Regions from separate parts of the Homo sapiens genome. Here all the other regions are linked to region 2. The links come from fine-mapping of genetic effects on gene expression. A gene starts in region 2. Each other region holds a variant in brackets. All regions are shown on one strand. Distances are from middle to middle. Region 1 overlaps FKBP1A-SDCBP2 (FKBP1A-SDCBP2 readthrough (NMD candidate)). Region 2 holds the start of SDCBP2-AS1 (SDCBP2 antisense RNA 1). Region 3 overlaps FKBP1A (FKBP prolyl isomerase 1A). Region 4 holds the start of FKBP1A (FKBP prolyl isomerase 1A). Region 5 overlaps FKBP1A-SDCBP2 (FKBP1A-SDCBP2 readthrough (NMD candidate)).

Region 1 (4,684 bases), 40 kb before region 2:
TCTCGATCTCCTGACCTCGTGATCCGCCTGCCTTGGCCTCCCAAAGTGCTGGGATTACAGGCGTGAGCCACCATGCCCGCCAATATTATTTTTAATGTATAACAGAATAATGTCAGGGTTTTGTTTTTTTTTTTTAATCCAGGATCCTACCACCCTAACAAACAAATCCAACTTCAATTTTTTTTCTCCTTCCTATTTCTTGCCCTAAGCACTTACAACGTTTAGCTTTAATCACAACGTAGTACAAATTTTGCATTTCTGCTTTTTTCCCCACTTGCCATTTTTATCAGGAGTATTTGTCCCTGTTGCCATATGGTTTTTATAACTGTTTTAAGAGGGCTGCTAAGTAAATTATACCACATGAACATTAAATTTACTTAACTACCTTGTTAAAGGATAATTTTTTTAGAAGTTAAAATTATGACTCATACAAATATAAAAGTAACATGTTAAAGATGATTGTATTTAACTTGTTAATTATTGAGAGAACCAGTAGGACACTTTAATTGGCTCAAAGGAGAATCCAAAGAACAAATAATTATAAGCCTAGCAGGAATGCTGAAATGAGTTTGCTTCGTAGTTACAAAACTGGCAAAATTGGCTGATACCTGCAGAACAATAATCAGTTATATTCCATTGGTCACAATTTGCATTTCTATGAACAAGAATCATCTGCATTATCAGTTTCCCTTAATTTACGTAATTGTAAAGTAGCTCAAAGGCAGTGAAATGAAAGGGAATCAACTCAGAAAGGTGGGCTAGATTAGACAGAACACTCAGTAATTGGAGGCAGGGGTGGGGGCAGTGGGCAAGACCTATTTCAAAGTCCTTCACAGTGTTTCCTGATAGCCTGTATTTGGATAGCTGGGTTATGTCCAGTTATTTGCTTTTATTAAATGTCAATACATCTTTGAACATTTTTTTCTTTCCTAAATACCTAGGTTCTATAAGATATAATACTGTTAATAGTAGGGGATCCCTAGGGTCAAAGGAGATTTTGACTTTTGATTAGTGTTGCCAAGTTGACCAGAGTTGTATAAGCCTTTTCCCATGCCAAAAACAAAAACACCATCCATGTCCAATGGCTATCACTTCCATAGTGTCCTAAAAAAAATCTTTAAAAACCTTCCTTTCTCCAGTGGTCCTCTGCTATGTCGTGAATGTGTCTCCCAAAGTTCCATGTGTTGGAAACTTGATCCCCAGTGCAGTGGGTGTGGGGAGGTAGGACCTAATGGGAAATGGTTGGGTCATGGGGGCTCTGCTCTCATGAGTGGATTAATGCTGTTATTATGGGAGTGGGTTCCTCATAAAAAAATGAGTTCAGCCACCTATTGGCCTCCAGCCCTCTCTCTCTTTCTGCCCTTCCACCCTCCACCATGGGGTGGACAGCAAGAAGCTCCTCACCAGATGCCAACACCTTGATTTTGGGACTCCCCAGCCTCCAGAACTCCATGAGATAAATTTCTCTTCATTATAATTTACCCCATGTATTGGTATTTTTATTATAGCAGCAAAAAGTAGACTAAGACACCTTTCCACCTTCTCATTTCTTCTCATATTCATTGGCCAGAATTAAATCTGTGGAGAATTTGACCTGGATCAATCAAGACCCATCACCCCAGGGCTGGAGAAGGGCTCAGACTCCCCTAAAGCTCTGAGCCCTAGAGCCCCTGAACAGATTCCGTTAATAAACAAGAAGCAGGGGGACCAGTGGACCCAGCTAGAAGCGGTTTATGTGGCTACTTACTGTATTTTCTTTTTTTAAATTTCCTTTTTTGTTTTACTTTTGAAATGCATGATGGTTATACTACAGTCCTAGGATTCAGGAAAACTTCTAATTCCACATCTAACCTTTGCTAAGGGTTAGATGCCAAACTACCTTTTGTTTGAGTTTTTCCATCCATTAAATGAACTTGGGATGAGAGTGGGAATGTGGGTGGTCAGAGTGACCAGATGAACTTTAAGATACCTTGCATCTCTAAAATTTTAATTATTTGAAAGTTAATGATCCATGTGAAAAACTTAACTTAGCTGTGGCAACCACATAACACCACCACCACCACCCCACCCTACCCTCTGTTTGAAATGCTTGTTCTTCAGTGCCGCAAAGAAATAGCACTTGAACATTAATTTCTTCAGCAAGGTCATTTTTATACTTTCTGCAGAAAGGGTACACTCGCCAGCAGTTTTGCCACGAGAGAACACCGAACAAAGGAGACAGGGTCATTTATAACTTGACAAGTCCACTTTACTGC[T/C]GTGTCCAGTTTCCATTGGCTGGAACGGGACCTCACATTCTGTATTTGTCCTGATTGGCTAGCAACTTAGAACTTTTTAAAAGAGGCAAAGGCAGAGGAGAATGAAGGAGGAAGTAACTTGTGGAATGCTGAGAAACGTAAAAACACCTTCAGATAAGGAAGAGGAACAGGCTATGACCTAATGCTTGCTTGGACCAGTATAAGCATTGCCAGGGCAAATAGGCTAAATTGTGGGAGCTAAGAACATAAAGTACATTGATTTCTTTATTACGGCTAGCAGATATTTAAGAATGTTAGCACAGGTCTTTGAATAAGTTTTGCTCCTAAGAGAAGTTACTATTTATTCTTAATTAGACAGGGAGGAAAGTCTTTGAAGAGGAACCTCACTTTACTTTTTACACCCCTAAGAACCATGATGATAGACTGCAAAAAAGCATCCCATCAACCATCACTTTTTCCAGGAAATGGCTGGCCACAGAAAACTCTCCGCCCCTTTCCTCTTTTGAAATGGTCCCAGACTGCTCACCTGCCTCCTTGAAGCTAATCAAGTCAAATGTACTTGAAGACCACTTTGTCTCTTGGCTTGCTTCCACAAATCCTACCCTTATATGACATTTGCCAAGTCAACACTGTCAGTATTTCTCCTTTTTACTCTATAACGTCTTAACACCTCTGAACACTTACCAAAACAAAGGTTTCAGCAGAAGGGTTCCCCTGCTGCACGTTTATGAATAAATAGCCTTTGTCGATTTTATCTTGGACTTAGTTTTGTCTCTGACACATGTGGAATGGATGTCTGTTAGAATTCTGCCCTTGCCACACCTCTTGCTTCCTGGATAAATGTGGGTTCACTTGGGTTGATGACCTTGGGCTACACTGGCTTCTTCAGAACCCCTGAGAAGCGTGTAGGGATTCTCATTCAGACCTCTAGAATTGAGTGAATCAGTGAAGGGCAGCTGACACCAAAAATGCATTAAAATGTCAAGGCCGGCAGCCCTCTAGCTTCTGGCTGGAGTGTGTGATGATTTCGTCTGAATTCCCTGAGTTCAAGGCATGCAGTGGGCACATCGACTATGGGCCCATCAGAGGCTGAGTTTGCAGCAGCAGCTGTCCTGTACAGCATGCAGCAAAACGGCTGTCAGCTCTTATTAGGAAGGTAGAAACATGCCAGTGGGTATGTATGCAGGACTAGTGTATCCTTGGATGTGCCTGTTACTGACCACTGTGGTTCTGTTTAACATTAATTTGTATATTTCTCAAAGCATCACATGCCCAAGATTTAGGCAAGTAAATTCAGTTAACCACAGAGTATACTTTTATGCCTTTCCTGTGATAACACCATTCTAGATGCTAAGAGTGAATGTAGGATAGGACAGAAAAGTGCTGCTGGCAAGGACCTTACATTCATGCCAGTGAAGGAGACCCAAAACAGATGGGCAAATAATGCCAGCCGTCTGGAAGCAATGGAGTGAAGTGGCCAAGTGAAGTCCTGGAGGAAAATTGTTCTAGGCTAAGTCCCTGAAGGGTGGTGAGTTTGGGGTGCTGGGGAAACAGCAGTATGACCTTTAGAGACAGAGCAAAGGTGTGAGGGACAGAGTTAGGCAGGGGCCAGGTGAGGCAGGCTATTACAATGTAAGTCTAGTGAGCAGTGGATTCCAGCAGGAGAATTATGTCTATTTGTTTTGGGGAGAGTGTTTTGAGACAAGGTCTGATCTGTCACCCAGGTTGGAGTGCAGTGGTGTAATCACAGCTCACGGCAACCTCAACCTCCCAGGCTCAAGCGATCCTCCCACCTTAGCCTCCCGAGTAGCACATGCCACTGTGTCGAGCCGTTTGTTTTTTTAAAATCCTCTGGAAACTGGGAAATTGACTGAAAGGTAGTATTCCTCCAAGCCCTTGAATCTAGGCTGGCCTTGTGACTACTTTGATCATTACAAGGCAGTGGGAAAGGATGTTCTGGGACTTCAAGCCCAGGCCTCAATAGGACTGCCAGCTTCTACTTCCTTCTCAGAACACTAGCTCTGAGCCCAAGCTACATGGAGAGGCCATCGTCCTAGCTGAGAACCTAGCCAGCTGCCACCATGTGAATGAACCACGGTGAACACTCAGCCCATTCAAGCCCACAAATGCCCACAGCTCCAGCCACATCACATGAATAGAGGAACCACCCCACTCAGCCCAGGAAAACCAGAGTTGTGAGACTGAATCACTTGGTTTTGAAGTTTATTTCACAGCAATAGATAAGTGAAACAAGGGCAAGAGTGGTGGATGGATGCAGGACACAAGCCAGCTTTGGGGTTCATTTAGGCCAGAAAGGATGGAGGCCTGGAGCAGACTGGCGGAAGTGAAGATAGTGAATCGTCAGATTCAGGACGCACTTGATGGGTGCAGCTTTCAAGCTGGATGAGAAGGGAAAGAAGTAGAATAGA
Region 2 (4,684 bases):
GTGGGGGTACATGCTGGTGGCCTAGCAACAGCTTCTTCTATTCCGACTCACCACATCCCTGGGCTAATTTGGCCTTCCAGGAGCTATTCCTCTGACACTCTAACCCACGCTTCCCTCCCGCGCACTGTCTTGTAAAGGACGGATGAGCTGTCCACAGGAACGAGTGGGAGTTCCATCACTTCAGCTCTTTGGAACAAAGTGTTCCAAAGAGTGTTCTCACTCTAAGTTCAAAGATGGGGGCTGAAGTCCCCTTGTCAGCCCTGCTGATCTCCGAAGCCCAGCTATTGGTTTGTTGTGGGTGTTGTTATTGCTTATATCAAAAAGTACAGAAGCTCAGGGATGGAAATCTGGAAAGGGCTGTGGGAGAGGAAAATTCCTCTGAGAGAGAGGGGTTAGGTGGGTTCTTTTCCTTTCGGAGGAACCAATTACTTGTGGGAAGCCATCAGCACAGAACTGAGCAAACTTCCACTGTCAGATTATAGGAGCCAGGCAGCCTTTCAACCTAACTCGTTAGGGCCATGGTTTCTCTCCTTTTCCAGGCCCAGGTTATTCTTCGAAAGACTTTCTACTTATTGACTGCAAACACAGACAGGCATGGGAAGAAAGACTGTATATTTAGGATATCAGGCTTTCTCTTCTCTCTGTGCCTGCTTTTCCACTCCTTTCAGAAATAGTAATGGGATGCCTGTTGTGTGCCAGGCACTGTGCTCAGCACTGGGGGTTAACAAATGAGTGACATTTCCTGACCAGTGAGGGAGATGAGCAAACAAACACAGCACAGTGGAAATCCAACCTAGGAAATGCAGAAGGCCTTGCTCATAGTAGGTGATTAACAAACACTTGTGGAATATATGATGAAGAGGCAAATACAAGAAATGCTGTCGTCTAGAGAAGGGAGGCTTGCCAATCTCCATGCGTACAGGTGGGGGAAAGCTTTAAATTGGAGGAAAAAGAGTTCACAACAAGGAAAAGAGAGAAGGCATGAATGACTCTTAAGACAGAGGGAATAGCACCTGCAAAAGCATGGAGGCATGAACTAGCAGGCTGACTTTTAGGACTCAACCTAAAGTAGTCTGGAATAAATGAACTTCATGATAAGTGTGGAGAAGAATGAGATGGTGAGAATGGAAACATTACCAGAAGTCAGGTCACAGAGATTTGAGGGCAAGAAGTAGGTATGGCTTCAGAAGGGAAAGGGAGGAGCTGAGGATAACTCCCAGATTTCTGACATAGCCCATGGGTGGATTCAGTGAGACCGCTGGGGAGGCGCGGCACAGCTGGGGAAAATCACGAGTCCAGTTTGGATAATCTGCGAGGTAAACGGGATCCAGAAGGCAACTGGACTCTCAGGCCTGGGCCTCCCTGTCCCTGGAATAGCACACTCTCTTCCCACTTGAACATCCATCCTACACGGCCCAGTCAGGGTCTTCTTCCTTCCTCCAGGAGACCTTCCTGATTGCCCTAGCCTTCCTCCTATACGCCACATCCAACTGCCTGAGTCCCTCATAACAGGCTTTCGGTCTGATTTTGCTGTGGGAATTGATTTGCCCGGCCAAGCCAAGAACCCTTCCCTAGGCAGCAGAAGCCCAGTCACTCAGTCACTGGTGGGTGGGACGCGGGGTGAATCTGCGTAGGGTGGGGCGGGGCATTTTTAGCTCAACACTGGGTCAGAAGTCACGGCCAGACAAGAAACGGGTGAGAAACGGGGGAGGAAGGGTGACGTCACAATTGGTAGGAAATACCTTGGGACTTGACGCTTTCGAAACCAAAGGGAGAGCAAAAGCAGCCGGGAGCGCGCGGGCCGACCTGGTTCTCCTCCCTTCCCACGGCTGCCTTAGTACAGAATCTTATAAGTCCTCCTCCTTCAGAGGCTACAAATGGTGTTCCGAGGCCAGGGGAGTTTAAAGCTCGATTTCACCCGCGCAGCCTCCAATCCGGTAAAGAGGGGCCGCGGAGCCCGACCAAGTCTTCCTATGCCTTACTCTGCTGCTTTACCTGATCTATTTTTGTGGATGCCGGCGCCAGCTACGGGCGCCCGGAGAAAGCACGAGGCCGGGTGGACTCTGGTAACGCAAGCGGCAAGGAGGCCGCCATGTTCCACTCTGCAGCCGCTAGGGATCGTGGGAGTCACCCCTAACCGCGCCCGGGCCTGGGTGGGCGAAACGCATGCGCTCTAGAAGTTGCTGAGTCGCTTGGCGGTGTTTCTGCGCAGGCGCCGTAGCCCATAGCAACCGCCGTAACCTGTAGCAACCGGAAGATGTCGCTTCCGGCTGGTTTGGGGCTAAGAAAGGGGTTATAGTCATTTCGAGATCATAGAACGATGTGACAGATAGGAAACTGAGGCTGGGTTGGAGGCAGGCCCTAGGGACCGTTGCGTTGGACCTCGCTCCTGTGGCGCGGTGGATGGAGTTTGTGGCTTGTGGCTCCTATTTCCCAAAGCAGGAAATTGAGACAGAGGGAAGGCACAGGTTCGTCCTGAGGCTGCAGCCCAGGTGATGGTTCCCCGGGTAAAAAATCAATATGATGCCCTTTGTTTATAAGGAGAAGGCAGGGACATGAAAGTAATTTCTAATAAAAGAATATGCATTTCACTTTGTAAAAGCTGAGGCTGGCTTACACCCGATCACGCTTGTACCCAACTTAGGAATCAGCTTAGGTTTACTAGAAGACAATATTCAGCTGAATTTTGCCAACAGTTTATATCTGACATCTTGAGTCAAAGGCTAAATATATTTATATAAAAGCGCGGAGTCACTGTGACAGCTACACATGTACACAGACGTGAGCATGCTGTTCGGGTGACTCACCCGTGGGGAGCAGGGTGGGCAGCGATTTTCCAGAATGGTGAGCAAAGTGTAACTCCCCACAACCAACCTGATATATGCATTTCCAGACAGTCTAGTGTGTACTAAAACTAGGGAAAAATTCATTGTGATTGTATGTACAACCAATTATAACGGATTTTTGGCTTACTTGAAAGTTTGGCAGGATATCTGAAAGTTGTGCGGGACAGGACCATTTGTTATGGTGACTGTAATGGACTGTCCCATCCATTACAGGAGTTTCATATCCCTGCCCCCCCCACCCCCGACAGGGATATGACTGTCCCCTCAGTCTCGTGACACCCAAAAATGCCCACATAAATTTCCAATCTGTTCCTTGGAAAACCACTGATTTATTCAGTCAAATAATTTTTGCTAGCATATGTGTGCTGGGCAGTGCCGTGGCGGGGAAGGATCGTGTGTGAACGGGACAGAGCTCCTGCCCTTATGAGTGAGGTCCAGTGTAAGAAAATACCCAGATATTAATCACATAATTTGATAAATAGCTTGGCAACAGGGGCAGTACAGGTCAGGGGTGGAATACATGGGAAGACCCAGCCAGGCAGCCTGGGTATCATGCAGTCTGGAAAAGCCAAGCAGAGAAGTAGCATCTGAACTGAGCCTCGAAGGAGCATCACACCAAGGAGGATGATGTGCACAGCAGAGGGACCAGCACGTCTGGCACACAGTGGACACTCAAATGTTTTGAATGATTGAACGAAACACAGCATGTTCGCTGGCAGGGAACCATTCCCCATTATATTGTGAGCTGCTACAAGGCAGGGGATACAGTATGCCTTTCCTATCCCCAGGTTTCACATCCATGGATCCAACCAACTGTAGACAGAAAATATTTAAAAATAAAAATTAAAAAAAACAACAAAAATTCAAATAAAAATAAAATATAACTTTGTTTAGCATTTACATTGCATTAGGTATTGTAAGTAATCTAGAGATGATTTAAAGTATACAGAAGAATGTGCATAAGTTATATGCAAATATTATGCCACTTTATGTAAGGGACATAAGCAGCTGTGGATGTTGGTATCCGAGGGATGGGGAGTGAGGGGCATTGTCCTGGAACCTACCCCAAGGAACGACTGTACCTGTTTTCTCACTTCCCCGCATCCCAGCACTAAGATGGGATCCAGAGAAGGTGGCAGTGGTGAAAGGATCTCAGACACAGAAAAAGGGTTATGTGATCTGGCCCGGGAGTGATTTCCAGGAAATGGATCTCTGACTCCCTGCTCTCCCAGGGGACAGCTGACAAAAATATAAGTGCTCTACTGGTTAAATGTTAGGAAAATCAGGGCAGGAGTGGCTGCTTATTTTCGCATCTGCTGTTCATGCGTGGTCCTGGTGGCAGGTCATGTTTTGGCAGATGATAGCTGCTCAGGACTGTCCCAAGATTAAAAATCTCATAGTGTGTGTACACAGTGGGGAAGGCTATAAGCAAAGGGGTCTCTTCCCCCAGGTGGTCTAAAGGAAGTCAGAGCCAGACTCCCTCCCCTCCCAGGAAATTCCTGTCCTGTTGGGATGGTCATTTCTACCCCAAAGGCCAGGCTAGGGCAGGGTCTGGAACTGGCTGCCTCCAGGAACCAAGCAGGCAACGTAAATCAGTGAAGGGCTGATGGGTACTTGCGGAAACAGGAAAGCACGTACAGCCCCATTTGCGAGGTAGGCTGTGACTCAGCCGGGTGAGTGTTGCCATGCACTATTCCAGCTCTTGCCTTGCCAAATGTTTATATTTTTTTCAATCCAAGTAAGAAGTGACGCATTTTGTGTTTCCAGATTTTTAAATATTGGCACTAATTCAGATTTTAAAAACAAAAGGCTGGGCATAGTGGCTCAGGCCTGTAATC
Region 3 (4,684 bases), 52 kb before region 2:
CCAACATCACTGCCACCACCCAACCCTGCCCTGCGAAGATTTCTCCTTAGAAAGTAGATGAGATTGACAGTTGGTGACTGTGGTCTGAAATTCTGGAGCAAGTCTCATGCCCCTTTCCCAGGGACAACAGAGCATCCAAAATAGCATAGGAAAATTAAGATCCTAGGCAAAGGTCCTGTTTAAAGCTCCTTTACTTAGAAATCCTGCTTCCTGGCTTTTATGGTTTTAAGATACTAGGGAGAGGTTTGCCCCTCAGTGTCCAAGATAGGCTCAGGAGAGCTGGGGTTAGACAGGCATCCTCACATAGAGCCACTGAAGAACATACACATCTCCATGCTGGCTCAGCAGCAGCAGCAGCAGCAGATTCAGGCTGTGTCCTGCCTAGTGCTCCTAGCCTGGTACCAGTCAGATAGATAGTTGAAGTATCTCACCTCAGGCAAAGCAACATTGATACATTGATGCATGTAGTGTCTGGAGGTTGCTTGGCATTGCATTTGATCAGGAATAAAAAGGAAGTTTAGGGAGTCTGTCTCAGTACCCTGTGGCTTTCACTGCAATCAAAATACGATCTTGCACAGGTCAGAGCCGTGTTCAAGTTTGGCAAGAAATAAGGCTAATTTTTTATAGGTATACCGTACTTTCCAAATTGTGGGTTATGAACCATTAATGCATCATGAAATAAATGTAGTGGGTCACAATCAGCATTCTTTTTAAAAATGAGAAGTATATGCCATGTAGTAACTTACATGTAAATTTTGTTTATACACAGACAAAATGTGGGTGTGTACTGGGTCCTGACATGAGACACTGTTCCCATTGTCGCGGATCAGGGATAGTTCTTTGTGGTTTTAGTTGTTGAGTTCTGTTTCTTTGTTATTCCTTTCGTGGCAGCACTACATTGTAGCGTGCTCACTAAGTGTCAGAGGTTTACCTCACGCCAGTTGTGTTCATTTGGCTGCAGGTAACTGAAGACCCAACCTAAGGCAAAGCAGACTTCTTTATTTTTGTAAGACTTCATTAAGAGCAGTTTCAGATTCTCAGCAAAATTGAGAGGCATGTACAGAGATTTCCCATATATCCCCTGGTCCCACACATGCATAGCCTCCTGTTATCAACACCCCCCACTAGAATGGTACGTGTGTTGCAATTGACGAACCTGCATTGACACATCATGATCACCCAAAGTCCATAGTTTACATTAGGGTTCACTCTTGGTGGTGTACATTCTGTGCATTTGGACAAGTGTATAATGGCATGTATCCATTATATATAGTATCATACAGAACATTTTCACTGCCCTAAAAATTCTCTGTGCTCCATCTGTTCTTCCCTCCCTCTACCCCTGACTCCTGGCAATCACTGATCTGTTGACTGTCATCCTAGATTTACCTTCAAAGCACACTTTTAATCACCTCAGAACATGAGTCTTGAGGGAAGTGGTTTGGGGCTGATTCAGAGCACTGGAATGACCACCTTGTGGTACGCCTGGCCTTCTGATAGTCACAGGGTGACTGCCATGCTCCAGACATCTTATCCTCACACAGCATTCAACAGGGAGGGCAGGAACTTTCTTCCCGAGTCTTTGTTTTTCTTTTTACTAATGAGGTGGGACTTTCCTGGAAGATCCCAGTAGACTTCACAGCAGGTAAAGTAGTGCCCAAACTGACCCGTATAGGGGAAGGGCTTGGATTGATTCGAGTTCATCTGCTGGGCCAGGCTGTTGTTGCTGTCGTTGCTCCTGGGAAGTTGTTGTTTAATTAGGAAGGTGAGGGTGCCACACAGCCTTGCTTCCAGGTGGCCCCTCTGGGCATGTTTTTCTTAAAATAACAGACCAGAGAGAAGCTCTTTCTGGTTTTCAGTCTCCTTTGTGGCTCACAGGCCCTGCCACTCCGTGGTTCTGACCTTGGGTGGGTTACTGAGCCTTGGAGTCGGTTTCCTTATTTCTGTTACAAGCAGTCTCACGAGGGTGGATGGAAAGGCTCCCTGCCTGGCCAGGGAATGGAGAATCATAGCTGTTCATTGCCTGCTCTCACCCTTACCTCTGAGGTTGGTTGGGTTGGGTTCCATGTAAGAAGTGCAGCTTGAAGTGGGCTAAAGGCAGTGTGTTTATTGGGTATTGTGGAGCCTGGAGACCTGTTTTTCTCCCAGGTACTCATTTATAGAGAACTGTTCAAGTCCTGCCATTAGTCATTTCTTTCATCAGGTGGTGACTGCATTCTGGTAAACGAATGAGCTAAATGCATACCCCAGCTCACCAGTTCTGGGGCACCAGTTCCTTGGAGCAGGTACCGGTCCCCACCCTCCTGTCTACCTCTTAGTCCTCAGCTCCCAGCTCCAGGCTTCAGGCAGCATTGGTACCCATTCTGCCCCAGGACATCCGTCTCTACTCCTGCTCTATTAAGATACCACCACCCAACCCCCACCCGTTTCTTACTTTGTTAAAGTCCACATAGTCCAGTAGCTGTGATAACACTGCCAATTCATCTCTGCCTCCCCATCCTACTTACAAATGTTGACACTGTTTTTTAGGTTGGGATTTTTGTCAGGATTTTCTTTTTTTCCTAAACTCTTACACAACAGAACTGTAATGTTTTTATGGATCTTCTGAGTAATGAATGCTTAGAACCATGGTGAGTGCCCACCCTCAGTCTTCCAGTAAAATCAGTTTTGTGTCCATTATATGTTAACCACTGGCTGACCCTCCAATCTGGGATCCTAATTAGAGAATTCTCAGGAACTCAGTGTCAGCTATCACAATAGGCTGGCAGTGGCTTCCTGAGAAAGCAATGCCGATGGTGTTTTTGAAAAGGAAGTTGCAGATATCTATTGCAGATGTCTGTTCCTCTTTTCTCATAGCGTCTCTGGAGTTCCCCTTTTATTGGAAGGCGCCGTCGTGGCTTGTCCAGCTTCTG[G/A]GAAACTGGAATAATAGAAAGAGCATGGTATTTGGGTTTATAATTTATAACGTAGTTTTACTATTTTACTAAATTATAAATTTACTATTTTTATAATAGTAAATTTTACTATTTACTATTTTCACTTCTCCCTGTCTGCCTCAGTTTCTTCATCTGTGAAATGGGGATAGTGCTGTGGAGAAAGAATTGCATTCGTTCATGTGTGGAAAGCACCTAGCCCATTTAGAGTAACTCAGAGTGGAACCACTGGCCACAGAGTTGCTAGCAGTTGGCTGGGTTTACTGAGTTAATTCTTGAAGGGCCACCACTGCAACCTCCTTAGTATTCCTGTTCTCTTCAGTCATCTCTGTTACAAAGTATTAGCTGTGCAAAAATGAGCATGGGTTGTTTTGTGGGGCAGCATTGGATAAAATAAGTGGGATGAATGCTGCACAAATTCTTTCTTTCATTTCTCTATTTCAGCCTAGGTTGGTTTTTACTTTCCCAGGAAAATTATGACAACTCAGGAACCAGCCTACAAGGGGCCAGCTTTACGCCCCAGGTTCCCTGTTGGTGTGAGACACTTGGCACTAGAATGAGGGTGAAAGCTTGCCTTATAGCTTCCTCTTACCACATCCCATAGTGCTGACCCACAGCCTGGAGAGCAGCAATGTGTGTAGGTCACAATTAGTGAACCACAGAGGAGCCCATGGGGGTGGCAGATGGTGGAGGGGGATTTGCCTGCACTGAACAATGGAGGAGCAATATATACACACATTATATGTGAAAGATGATGGGGGATTTTGGGAAGGAATATTGCTTCTTGCACTGTGTGTGACTTCTAGACATAGTGTGCACCTCGAGGGACCACAGTTATTTTTAGCTGGGGAGAAAATCCACGGGGTGCTGGGAGAGTCAGGGCAGGAGGAAGTTTATACTCCCCATCTCCAGAAGAAGGTGGACTGCCGCTCATCTCTGGTACGCGGGGTCCTTTTGTAGTCGAGTTATTGCTTGGAGTCAGGGAAGAGCATTCACAGGTCTGGAGTAGGACTGTCGCAACTCCTTAGATGTCCAGTGAGGTCACAGGAAACCCTCCCTAGATACTGCAGTTCCTGCCAGACTCTTCAGCACTGGCATCTCTGATGAGTGCTCTGCTGCTGGTTTCTGACTTGTCTTGTGTCATTACTCTGCTGCTCATGTTACAGTCGTCTTTTTCACAGGGATGCTTGAAGATGGAAAGAAATTTGATTCCTCCCGGGACAGAAACAAGCCCTTTAAGTTTATGCTAGGCAAGCAGGAGGTGATCCGAGGCTGGGAAGAAGGGGTTGCCCAGGTATGCTCTCTCATTTGTTTTGTTTTGCTTTCTAGTATTTACCTTTTATATTTTTTTATAGGTGGCATATTTATACGGTTCAAAAATAAAAAAAGTGAAAAGTCTCACCCTCATGCCATCCCATCTGACCAATACCCCCACAAGAAGCTCCTGTTGTTAATGTTTCTTGTACTGTGGTTTAAGCACATATAAAAACATAACTTTTTTCTTGCTTTCACACACATACTGTTTTGCAGTTTACTTTTTCACTTAATGCATTTTTGACACTTGCAATACCACTACATAAAAGAGGAGTAGGCTGGGCGCGGTGGCTCATGCCTGTAATTCCAGCACTTTGGGAGGCCAAGATGGGTGGATCACCTGAGGTCAGGAGTTCCTGTAATCCCAGCACTTTGGGAGGCCAAGATGGATGGATCACCTGAGGTCCGGAGTTCGAGACCAGCCTGGCCAACATGGCGAA
Region 4 (4,684 bases), 69 kb before region 2:
GGAGCTGAACAGAACTTCAGGCACCTGTGAGACAATTCCAAAATATCTAATGTTCGTGTTACCAGGATCTGAGAAGAACAGGAGAAACAGAATGGAGCAGAAGAAAATATCTGAAGAAATAATGGCTGAAAACTTCCCAAATGTGGTGAAAGGCATACACCTATAGACTCAGGAAGCTGAGTAAACCACAAACAGGATAAACCAAAGGAAATCCAACCCCCATTTTTCAGGTTTTAGAACTTCAGGGAGGGAGTCACTTCCCCTTGTCATGAGGGATGCTTATGACTTCAGACTGAAATGATTCCCTGTCTCCTGTTACACAAAGAGAGTGAAAATAAATTTAATCAGTTCAGAATGATATTAAATGAAAGTCAGAATCTCCTGCTCTTTCTCCCAGTTCCATCTCTTAGAGTCACTCACTCTTTCTGTTTTTTGTTCTGGTTTGCTAAGGGTGATCCCAAAGAACTTAACTACTTAACAGAGTTGTTAATAACTAGGCTATATATAAACAGAATCTAAATTAATTTAGAAAGGAACTCTCCCAGTTACTTCAAAAAATCAGATAAATGCTTAATAAGTGCCCCTTGTCCCCAGGTCCAATTCATCTTAGGTCTGGTGGCAGAACTGATAGCTACATGCTTTCCTGTGTTTTCCCAAAGCACTGAGGAAGAAGTGGTGCAAATGTGAGGTTCTTGGGGAACCCCCATCTATATAAACAAAGCTTATATCCATGGATTGAGATGGCCACTGTCTCAAAGGCAGGTCTATGTTTTGAACCGATACCCAATTCAGAGCCATGAGAGAGACCACAGGATGAATGTGAGGCAAGCCTTATTCTGCTAGGCTTCAGGGAAAACGGAATCCAGGAACTCTCTCGCCCCTGGTTGCTCTCATTCTCCATCATTTATTCTCGCTGCAGTCTGATTTTCTCTAGGTGGTGTGAAGCAGTGTCCTGGCGACTGCTGGGGCCCTCTTTTTAATTTCATCTTTCGATCTCCATTCTTCCATTCTATGAGCACAGAACCTCTGATTTTAGTTGGGTGTGTGTACACCCAGAATGAAGACTTTATTCCCTAGCCTCCCATGCAGCTAAATTTGACCATATAACTAAGTTATAGTCAATGTGAAGTATAACGGGAAGAGATGTGTGCAATTCTAAGTCGTACCCTTAAAGGAAAAGGGAATGTACCCCCCATTCCTCCTTTCCCCCTTCCCACTAGCTGAGATGAAAATATGTTGGAGAGCCAACTTGGACCATGCATATGAGGGTAGGATTCTAAGGATGGGGAGCCACAAGTAGAAGAAGGATGAGTCCCTGGGCAGCCTGTGAAGTCCTACCTGCACTGAACCACCTGCCTCTGAACTGTTACATGAGAGAGACAGCAACTTCAGCCTCTTTTCAGCCACAGTTAATTTGGTTCTGTTACAGCCTGTATTCTTACTACATTAAAATTTCCAAAGCAGTCACGAGCTCACTGAGATTTTAGGAAAGGGGACATAGATGAGGGTTGGGGTGTCAAAAAACTGTGAGGTCATGTTTAAAACACTACAGGAGCTGGTATGGTTTAGTTCTGTGTCCCCACCCAAATCTTATCTTGAATTGTAATCCCTATAATCCTGAGGTCAAGGGAGGGACCCGGTGGGAGGTGATTGGATGGTGGGGGTGGTTTCCCCCATGCTGTTCTCATGGTAGTGAGTGCATTCTCATGAGAAATGATGGTTTTATAGGTGTTTGACAGTTCCTCTTCACATACTCTCTCTCATGCCTGCTGCTGTGTAAGATATGCCTGCTTCCCCTTCTGCCATGATTGTAAGTTTCCTGAGGATTCCCAGCCATGCAGAACTGTGAGTCAATTAAACCTCTTTCCTCCATAAATTACCCAGTCTCAGGAATTTTTTTTTTTTTTTTTTTTTTTTGAGACTGGTTCTCACTCTGTCACCCAGGCTGGAATGCAGAGGTGCAATCTTGGCTCACTACAACCTCCGCCTCCTGGTTTAAGCAATTCTTATGCCTCAGCCTCTCAAGTGGCTGGGATTACAAGCCTGTGCCACCATGCCTGGCTAATTTTTTTGTATTTTTAGTAGAAACTGGGTTTCACCATGTTGGCCAGGCTGGTCTTGAACGCCTGGCCTCAAGTGATCTGCCCGCCTC[A/C]GCTTCCCAAAGTGCTGGGATTACAGGCATGAGCCACCGTGCCCAGCCTCAGGTATTCTTTATAGCAGTGTGAGAATCGACTAATGCAGAAGCACACACACACACAGATCAGAGAAAGATTAGTCACATGTGCCTCCTTATGTCCTAGACCATGTCACAGTGTTCTCTTGCGTTACAGTGCCTCTGCAGGTACTGCTCCTTCTGCCTCCCCTTACCCCAACACATACACACAATTGGCCTTCTAACCTTGGCTAAACCTGGCTAAACCTGGCTAACTCAGGGAAATATCTGACCACATTCCAGACTAAGTGAGGCATCTCTGTTATATTAACACGCCCCTCACAGCATGTATTACTGTCTCATAATATTACAGATTTGAAACTTTACATTTATTCCGTATCTTTTTTTACTTAAACAGGTTATTTGATTATCTCTCCCACATCATACGTAGATTCTGTGAGGTCAGGGACTAAGTCTGACTCCTTCACCGCTGTATCCTCAGCACCTAGCACAGTACATGACATACAGAAGGTGCTTGTCAAAGTCAAAATAAAATATGGAGATGAATCTCTAAATGTAATGTTTTATTTGGGGAAGCGAGAATCGCAACTCGGAGCATACACACAGATCTGGTGGTCTTTGGTATGTCCGAAAAACAAAGAGAAGGCTGGGCGTTTTATTAGAAAGGGAAATGCATTGGCACTAGTAAAGTTTCAGGGAGCTGGCAAGCTCTGATTGGTGACTGACAGTGGTAAGTAAAACTAGTATTAGGTTATGGCGGGTTGTTTCAGCAGTTACTAGCTGAATCTGGTCTCAGGGGGACAGCAGGCCATTTCCGCAGCAGTTAGTGGAAATATTGGTTCTTGGAGCAGGCGCTGCGTGCCTCCAGTGCTTTTCCCCTGGCCCCTGGATTCTGATTCCGTTGGGCATAAGAAGAGTGACCCAATTCGTATTATCAACTTTCACATGCTCAATAAGAATGTATGCATGTAAGCTATGGGTGAGTGAATGAATTTGGACAACTCCTCCTCCAGTGAAGAAAAGCAGAACTTACAACCTTGAGCCACTTATAAAATACTAACATACTACCACCACCTGTGCGCTGTCTTCTCAGAACCATGCTCTTCCCAGGATGAGTAACTGTGTGCTTCTAAGTGGAAACCTGATGACAGTCACCCAGTCAGTGACTGGCGGACCCCCTATTATTACTCCCATTCTTTGGGCAGGGAGATGCTTAACCGGCTGGAAGCACAGAGGAAGGGCAGGAGAACGAAGCAAGTCACCCGGCAAACACAGCTGTATCCGGAGGCCTCCGGGCTTCCGGAGGTCTCGGGGCTTCTGGGCTTCCGGTCCCTCTTCCGGAGGCCTGGGTTTCCGGGACGTCGCGCGCCGTGTGGGGCGCGCACGCAGGGCTGGGCGTGAGGGGGCGTGCGCGTGCGCAGGCGACGCGCCGAGGTACTAGGCAGAGCCGTGGAACCGCCGCCAGGTCGCTGTTGGTCCACGCCGCCCGTCGCGCCGCCCGCCCGCTCAGCGTCCGCCGCCGCCATGGGAGTGCAGGTGGAAACCATCTCCCCAGGAGACGGTGAGTAGTGGCGCGCGGCGGCTCGGAGTACCTCTGCCGCCGCGCGCATCGGCTCAGCATGCCCGTCTCTGTCTCCTCAGGGCGCACCTTCCCCAAGCGCGGCCAGACCTGCGTGGTGCACTACACCGGTGAGTCGGGGGCCCAGCGGGGAGGGGGCCCGGGCCGCAGTCCGCAGCCCGGGTGCGGCTGGCCGTCGAGGCCTGGGGGCCCGGGGCCTGGGGTCCGGGGCGTGGCGGCGGCGAGGTCCGCATGGCCCGAGGCTGAGGCCTGGGCGGTGGCTCAGGGGCAGCCTGGGGCTTGCGGAACCCGGGCGGGTCTGAATCGGCGGCTGTGAGCGTCGGCTGCGGGCTAGGTGTTATCTGACCCGTCAGAAGCATTTCTGCACCTTAGATGCTGCCCTTATGCCCGCTGCACAGATGAGGAAACTGAGGCTTGGCGAGGCGAAGTCACTTTCCCAAGGTCTCACTTTCCCAAGGTCACACTTTCAGGAATGGGCAGAGCTCTGGCCAGGGACCATTAGGAAGGATTTGTACCATTTCTGTGCCCCTGCCCCCACTTCCATCCCTCCCTTCACTGGAGATGAGGACGAGGTAATTCCGAGTCTGCAGAGCTGCTGCTTCCTCCGGGGAACTCGGAATTCGCCCCTTTGCCTAGGGTGGGGAAACATCCCACTTCCTAAGTCATTGCTTTGGCCCTTCCTGGCCTTGGGGGAAGTAGAGCTGCACGGCCTTCTTCCGTCTTTTTACTTTTGAGCCACTTACAAATCCAAGGCTCAGTGACAGCGCTGGCTCAGGCTGACCGAAAGCTGCACGTGTAATTTAGTCCCCCAGCTCTTCTAGAAGTAGAGACTTTTCTCGTCCTCATTTTAAAGATAAGCATCTGGAGGCTAATACATAGTGATAATACAAGCCAAAGGAAATTTTAGACACCTCCCCCTCCCCAGCCAGAAT
Region 5 (4,684 bases), 30 kb before region 2:
CCAACATGGAGAAACCCCGTCTGTGCTAAAAATACAAAATTAGCTGGGCGTGGTGGCGTGCACCTGTAATCCCAGCTTCTTGGGAGGCTGAGGCAGGAGAATCGCTTAAACCCGGGAGGCGGAGGTTGTGGTGAGTCAAGATTGTGCCATTGCACTCCAGCCTGGACAACAAAGAGTGAAACTCCATCTTAAAAAAAGAAAAAAAAAGAAAAAGAAACCCCAAATGGAAGATTTATTTTATTTTAAATCATTTTTAAAAAAATAGAGACAGGGTCTCACTACATTGCCCAGGCTGCTCTCAAACTCTTGTGCTCAAGCAGTCTGCCTGCCTCAGCCTCCCAAAGCGCTGGGATTACAGGTGTGAGCCACTGTGCCCAGCCTATTTTATTTTTTATTTATTAACTTATTTCTTTTGAGACAGGGTTTGTCTCTGTCACCCAGGCTGGAGCGCTGTGGCGTGATCTCAGCTCACCTGCAAGCTCCACCTCTTGGGCTCAAGCGATCCTTCCACCTCAGCATCGTGAATAGCTGGGACTACAGGCACATGCCTTCATGCGCAGCTAATTTTTTGTATTTTTTATAGAGATGGAGTTTCGCCATGTTGCCCAGGCTGGTCTGAAACTCACGGACTAAAGTGATCTGCCCGCCTCAGCCTCCCAAAGTGCTGGGATTACAGGCATGAGCCACCACACCCAGCCCCAGATGGAAGTTTTAGAACTTAAAAATATATATATATACACAATAACAGAAACAAACTCATTGGATGGACACAATGGCAGAGTGGAGATGACAGAGGAAAGAAACATTGAACTTGAAGACAAACCAATAAAAGTTACACAGTCTGAACAGAGGAAAAAAAAGACAATAGATTTTTTAAAAATGAATAGGACTTTAAGGACCTATGGGAAAATACTCCAAGATCTAAATACTCTTTAGAGCTATTGAAGTTCCATAAGGACAAGAGAAAGAGTGCAGTGCTGAAAATATACTTAAAGAAATCATAGCTGAAAACTCCCCAAATTTGGTGGAAGGTGTAAATCTTCAGATTTAAGAAAATGAGCAAACCCCAAGCCAAGAGGACTCAACAACCCTAAAATAGTATGCACTGAACAACAAAGTTATAAAATAATGTGAAAACTGACAGAATTGAAAGAAGAAATAGATAAATCCACAATTACAGCGTGGACTTCAACATCCTTCTATCACTAACTGATAGAACCATTAGACAAAAAAAAAAAAATCATCAAAGATTAGAAGAAATTAACAACATGAGCAACAACATTTAAGTGACATTTCTAGAACATTCCATCCAACAGCAGCAGAATACACATTTTTTTTTCAAGTGCACATGGAACATTTACCAAGATAGACCATATCCTGGGACATAAAACAAACTTTAACAAATTTAAAATAATTGAAGTTATGTGAAGTATGTTTTCTGATCAGTTGTGATGGAATTAAACTGTATGCCTCTCACTCATTCTTAAAATGCAAGGCTGGTTTTATACTGAATTAATAATTAGTAACCTTCCAAAAAAAGAAAGTACAAGACCCAGATGGTTTCACTGGTTTCACTGGTGAAACCAAATGTTTAAGGAATAAATAGTATCAATTCTCTGCAATTTCTTCCAGAAAACGGAAGCAGAGGGAATACTTCTTAACTCATCCTATGAGGCCAGCACTACCCTAATACCGAAACGAGATTAAGATATTATAATAAAGGAAAATTAAAAACCAATCTCTCAGGAACACAGATGTACAACTCCTCAATAAAATACTAGCAAATCAGGAGGAGGTGGAGCAAGATGGCTGAAAAGAAGCCTCCAGCAATTGTCTACCCTGCAAGAACACCAAATTGCACAATGATCCACACAAAAAAGCACCTTCATAGGAGCCAAAAATCAGACAAGTGATTACAGTACTTGATATTAAAATCATATTAAAGAAAGAGGCACTGAGTGTGGTATGGAGAGAGAATATGTGCACTTCTGGAAGAGAGCACAGTGATTGTGGGACACTGCAATGGAACTCAGTGCCGCCCTCTCACAGTGGAAAGCAACGGGGCAGAACTTCGCGAGTGCCCATGTCCTAGCCAGGGGCAAATCATCCATCCCAGCAGTCAGAACGTGAGTTCTGGCAAACCCCGCCAAAGTGGGCTAAAGTGCTCTGGGGTCCTAAATAAATTTGGAAGGCCGTCTGGACCAGAAGGACTGCAATTCCTGGGCAAGTCCTGGTGCTATGCTGTGTTCGGAGCCAGTGTACTTGGGAGGCATGTGACCTAGTGAGACACCAGCTGGGGTGATCAAGGGAGTGCTTGTGTCATCTCTCCCCCAACTCCAGGCAGCACAGCTTACAGCTCCAGGAAAGACTCTTTCCCTCTGCTTGAGGAGAGGAGGAGAAGAGTAAACAG[G/A]GCTTTTTTTTTGGCAAATTGGATACTAGCTCAGCCACAGTAGAATAGGACACTAAGCAGAGGTCTGAGGCACTCGTTCCAGGCTCTAGCTTCTGGATGACATTTCTAAACTTACCAGAAAGGAACCTACTGCCAGAACAGAAGGACCCAGTTCTGGCAAAATTCATCACCTGCTGACTAAAGGGCCCTTTGGCCTTGAATAATCAGCAGTGTTAGCCAAGTAGTACTGGCCGCAGGCCTTGGGTGAGACTCAGAGCCACACTGGCTTCATGTGTGACCCAGTACATTCCCAGCTACGGTGGCCTCAGGGAGAGACCCCTTCTGCCTAAGGAAAGGAGAGGGAAGAGTAAAGGGGACTTTGTCTTGCAGCTTGGGTACCAGCTTGGCCACAGTTGGGTAGAGTACCGAGTACCAAGTGGGACTCTGGGGCCCCGATTCCAGGTCTTGGCTCCTGGATGGCATTTCTGGACCTGTACTGGGCCAGAGGTAAGCCCACTGCCCTGAAAGGAGAGAATCAGGACTACAAGCATTCACCATAAGCTGACTGAAGAGCCCTTGGGTCTTGAATGAACATAGGTGGTAGCCAGGCAGTACTCACCACGGGCCTAGGACAGTGGTGGCCATGGGGAGACTCCTCTGCCTGAGGAAAGGGGAGGGAATAGTGGAAAGGACTTTGTCTTGTGGCTTGGATGCAAGCTCAGCCGCAGTAGAATAGAGCATCAGGTAGACTCCTAAGGTTCCCAACTACAGGCCCTGCCTTCTGGACGACATCTATGGACCCACCTGGGGCCAATCTCAGACAGAGATTGATGAATATTTGGATAGATAATTCAAAATAGCCATTTTGAAGAAACTCAACAAAATCATGTTGATAACAGAGAAGAAATTCAGAATCCTATCAGATAAATTTAACAAAGAAGTTGAAATAATTAAACAGAACCAAGCAGAAACTCTGGAGCTGAAAAATGCAACTGACATACTGAAGAATGCATCAGAGTCTCCTAACAGCAGAATTTGTCAAGCAGAAGAAAGAATTAATGAGCTTGAAGACAGTGTATTTTAAAATACAGTCAGGAGACAAAAGAAAAAAGAATAAGAAAGAATGAAGCATGCTTACAAGATCTAGAAAATAGCCTCCAAAGGGCAAATCTAAGAGTTACTGGCCATAAAGAGGCAGTAGAGAGAGGGACTAGGGTAGAAAGTTTATTCAAAAGGATAATAACAGAGAACTTCTCAAACCTAGAGATATATCAATATTCAAATACAAGAAGGTTATATAGAACACCAAGCAGATTTAACCCAAATAAGACTACCTCAAGACATTTAATAATCAGACTCCCAAAAGTCAAAGATAAAAAAGGATCCTAAAAGCAGCCAAAGAAACAAATAACATACAAAGGAGCTCCAATACATCTGGTAACAGACTTCTTAGTGGAAACCTTACAGGCCAGGAGAGAAACTAGCATGACATACTTAAAGGGCTAAAGAAAAACTAACCTTTTTATACTGGAATTTATCCAGTGAAAATATCCTTCAAACATGAAGGAAAAATAACGACTTTCCCAGACAAACAAAACCTGAGGGATTTTATCAACACCAGATCTGTCCTACAAGAAATGCTAAAGGAATTTCTTCAATTAAAAAAACAAAAAGGATGTTATTGAGCAATAAGAAATCATCTGGGGGCTCACACCTTTAATCCCAGCCCTTTGGGAAGCCAAGGTTGGGGGATTGCTTGTGTCCAGGAGTTCAAGACCAGCCTGGGTAACATAATGAAACCCCATCTCTACAAAAAGTAAAAATTAGCTGGGCATGGTGGTATGTGCCTGAAGTCCCAACTATTTGAAAGTCTGGGATGAGAGGATTGCTTGAGCCTGGGAGGTTGAGGCTGCAGTGAGCCACACTCCATTGCAGTCCAGCGAGGGTGACAGTGAGTCCCTGTCTCAAAAAAAAAAAAAAAATCATCTGAAAGTATAAAATTCACAGATAATCATAAGTACACAGAAAGACACAGAATATAACACTGTAACTGTAGTGTGTAAACTACTGATCTCTTGAGTAGAAAGACTAAATGATGACCCTGTCAAAAATAATAACTACAACTTTTCAAGACATAGTATAATAAGATATAAATAGAAACAACAAAAAGTCAAAAGCAAGGGGATGAAGTTAAAGTGTAGAGTTTTTATTCATCTCTTTGCTTGTTAGTTTGCTTATGCAATCATTGTTAAGTTGTCATCAGTTTAAAATAATGGGTTACAAGATATTATTTGC

The links.
Region 1: its variant is fine-mapped to the expression of SDCBP2-AS1 in whole blood (TOPMed, PIP above 0.99).
Region 3: its variant is fine-mapped to the expression of SDCBP2-AS1 in lung (TOPMed, PIP above 0.99). The same link has a PIP of 0.9 or more in whole blood.
Region 4: its variant is fine-mapped to the expression of SDCBP2-AS1 in whole blood (INTERVAL, PIP 0.99).
Region 5: its variant is fine-mapped to the expression of SDCBP2-AS1 in whole blood (TOPMed, PIP above 0.99).

What each region holds. Positions count from the first base shown.
Region 1 is chr20:1,362,367-1,367,050 of GRCh38, reverse strand. All of the region lies in intron 2 of FKBP1A-SDCBP2 (FKBP1A-SDCBP2 readthrough (NMD candidate)), which reads left to right. All of the region lies in intron 1 of SDCBP2-AS1 (SDCBP2 antisense RNA 1), which reads right to left. Among named protein-coding and RNA genes, the nearest start is that of MIR6869, 28 kb to the left of the region's middle. The variant T/C (reference allele first, on the strand shown) is at 2,256.
Region 2 is chr20:1,322,841-1,327,524 of GRCh38, reverse strand. It overlaps SDCBP2-AS1 (SDCBP2 antisense RNA 1), which reads right to left and starts at 2,182. Exons shown (of 3, transcript NR_040049.1): 1 at 1,996-2,182. The region is part of intron 1 of SDCBP2 (syndecan binding protein 2); the gene reads left to right. The region is part of intron 2 of FKBP1A-SDCBP2 (FKBP1A-SDCBP2 readthrough (NMD candidate)); the gene reads left to right. LOC124904856 (a long non-coding RNA gene) reads right to left here. Exons shown (of 2, transcript XR_007067487.1): 2 at 3,156-3,659. RefSeq lists enhancers at 1,606-1,900, 1,891-2,120.
Region 3 is chr20:1,375,031-1,379,714 of GRCh38, reverse strand. FKBP1A (FKBP prolyl isomerase 1A) reads left to right here. Exons shown (of 5, transcript NM_000801.5): 3 at 4,112-4,224. All of the region lies in intron 2 of FKBP1A-SDCBP2 (FKBP1A-SDCBP2 readthrough (NMD candidate)), which reads left to right. It overlaps SDCBP2-AS1 (SDCBP2 antisense RNA 1), which reads right to left. Exons shown (of 3, transcript NR_040049.1): 3 at 980-2,917. Among named protein-coding and RNA genes, the nearest start is that of MIR6869, 16 kb to the left of the region's middle. RefSeq lists an enhancer at 1,127-2,326. The variant G/A (reference allele first, on the strand shown) is at 2,913.
Region 4 is chr20:1,392,012-1,396,695 of GRCh38, reverse strand. It overlaps FKBP1A (FKBP prolyl isomerase 1A), which reads left to right and starts at 3,642. Exons shown (of 5, transcript NM_000801.5): 1 at 3,642-3,734; 2 at 3,815-3,862. The coding sequence starts at 3,698. It overlaps FKBP1A-SDCBP2 (FKBP1A-SDCBP2 readthrough (NMD candidate)), which reads left to right and starts at 3,524. Exons shown (of 10, transcript NR_037661.1): 1 at 3,524-3,734; 2 at 3,815-3,862. It overlaps MIR6869 (microRNA 6869), which reads left to right and starts at 3,735; the gene lies at 3,735-3,796. RefSeq lists silencers at 3,586-3,635, 3,836-3,935, 3,946-4,015 and an enhancer at 3,750-4,250. The variant A/C (reference allele first, on the strand shown) is at 2,153.
Region 5 is chr20:1,352,871-1,357,554 of GRCh38, reverse strand. All of the region lies in intron 2 of FKBP1A-SDCBP2 (FKBP1A-SDCBP2 readthrough (NMD candidate)), which reads left to right. The region is part of intron 1 of SDCBP2-AS1 (SDCBP2 antisense RNA 1); the gene reads right to left. Among named protein-coding and RNA genes, the nearest start is that of SDCBP2, 26 kb to the right of the region's middle. The variant G/A (reference allele first, on the strand shown) is at 2,411.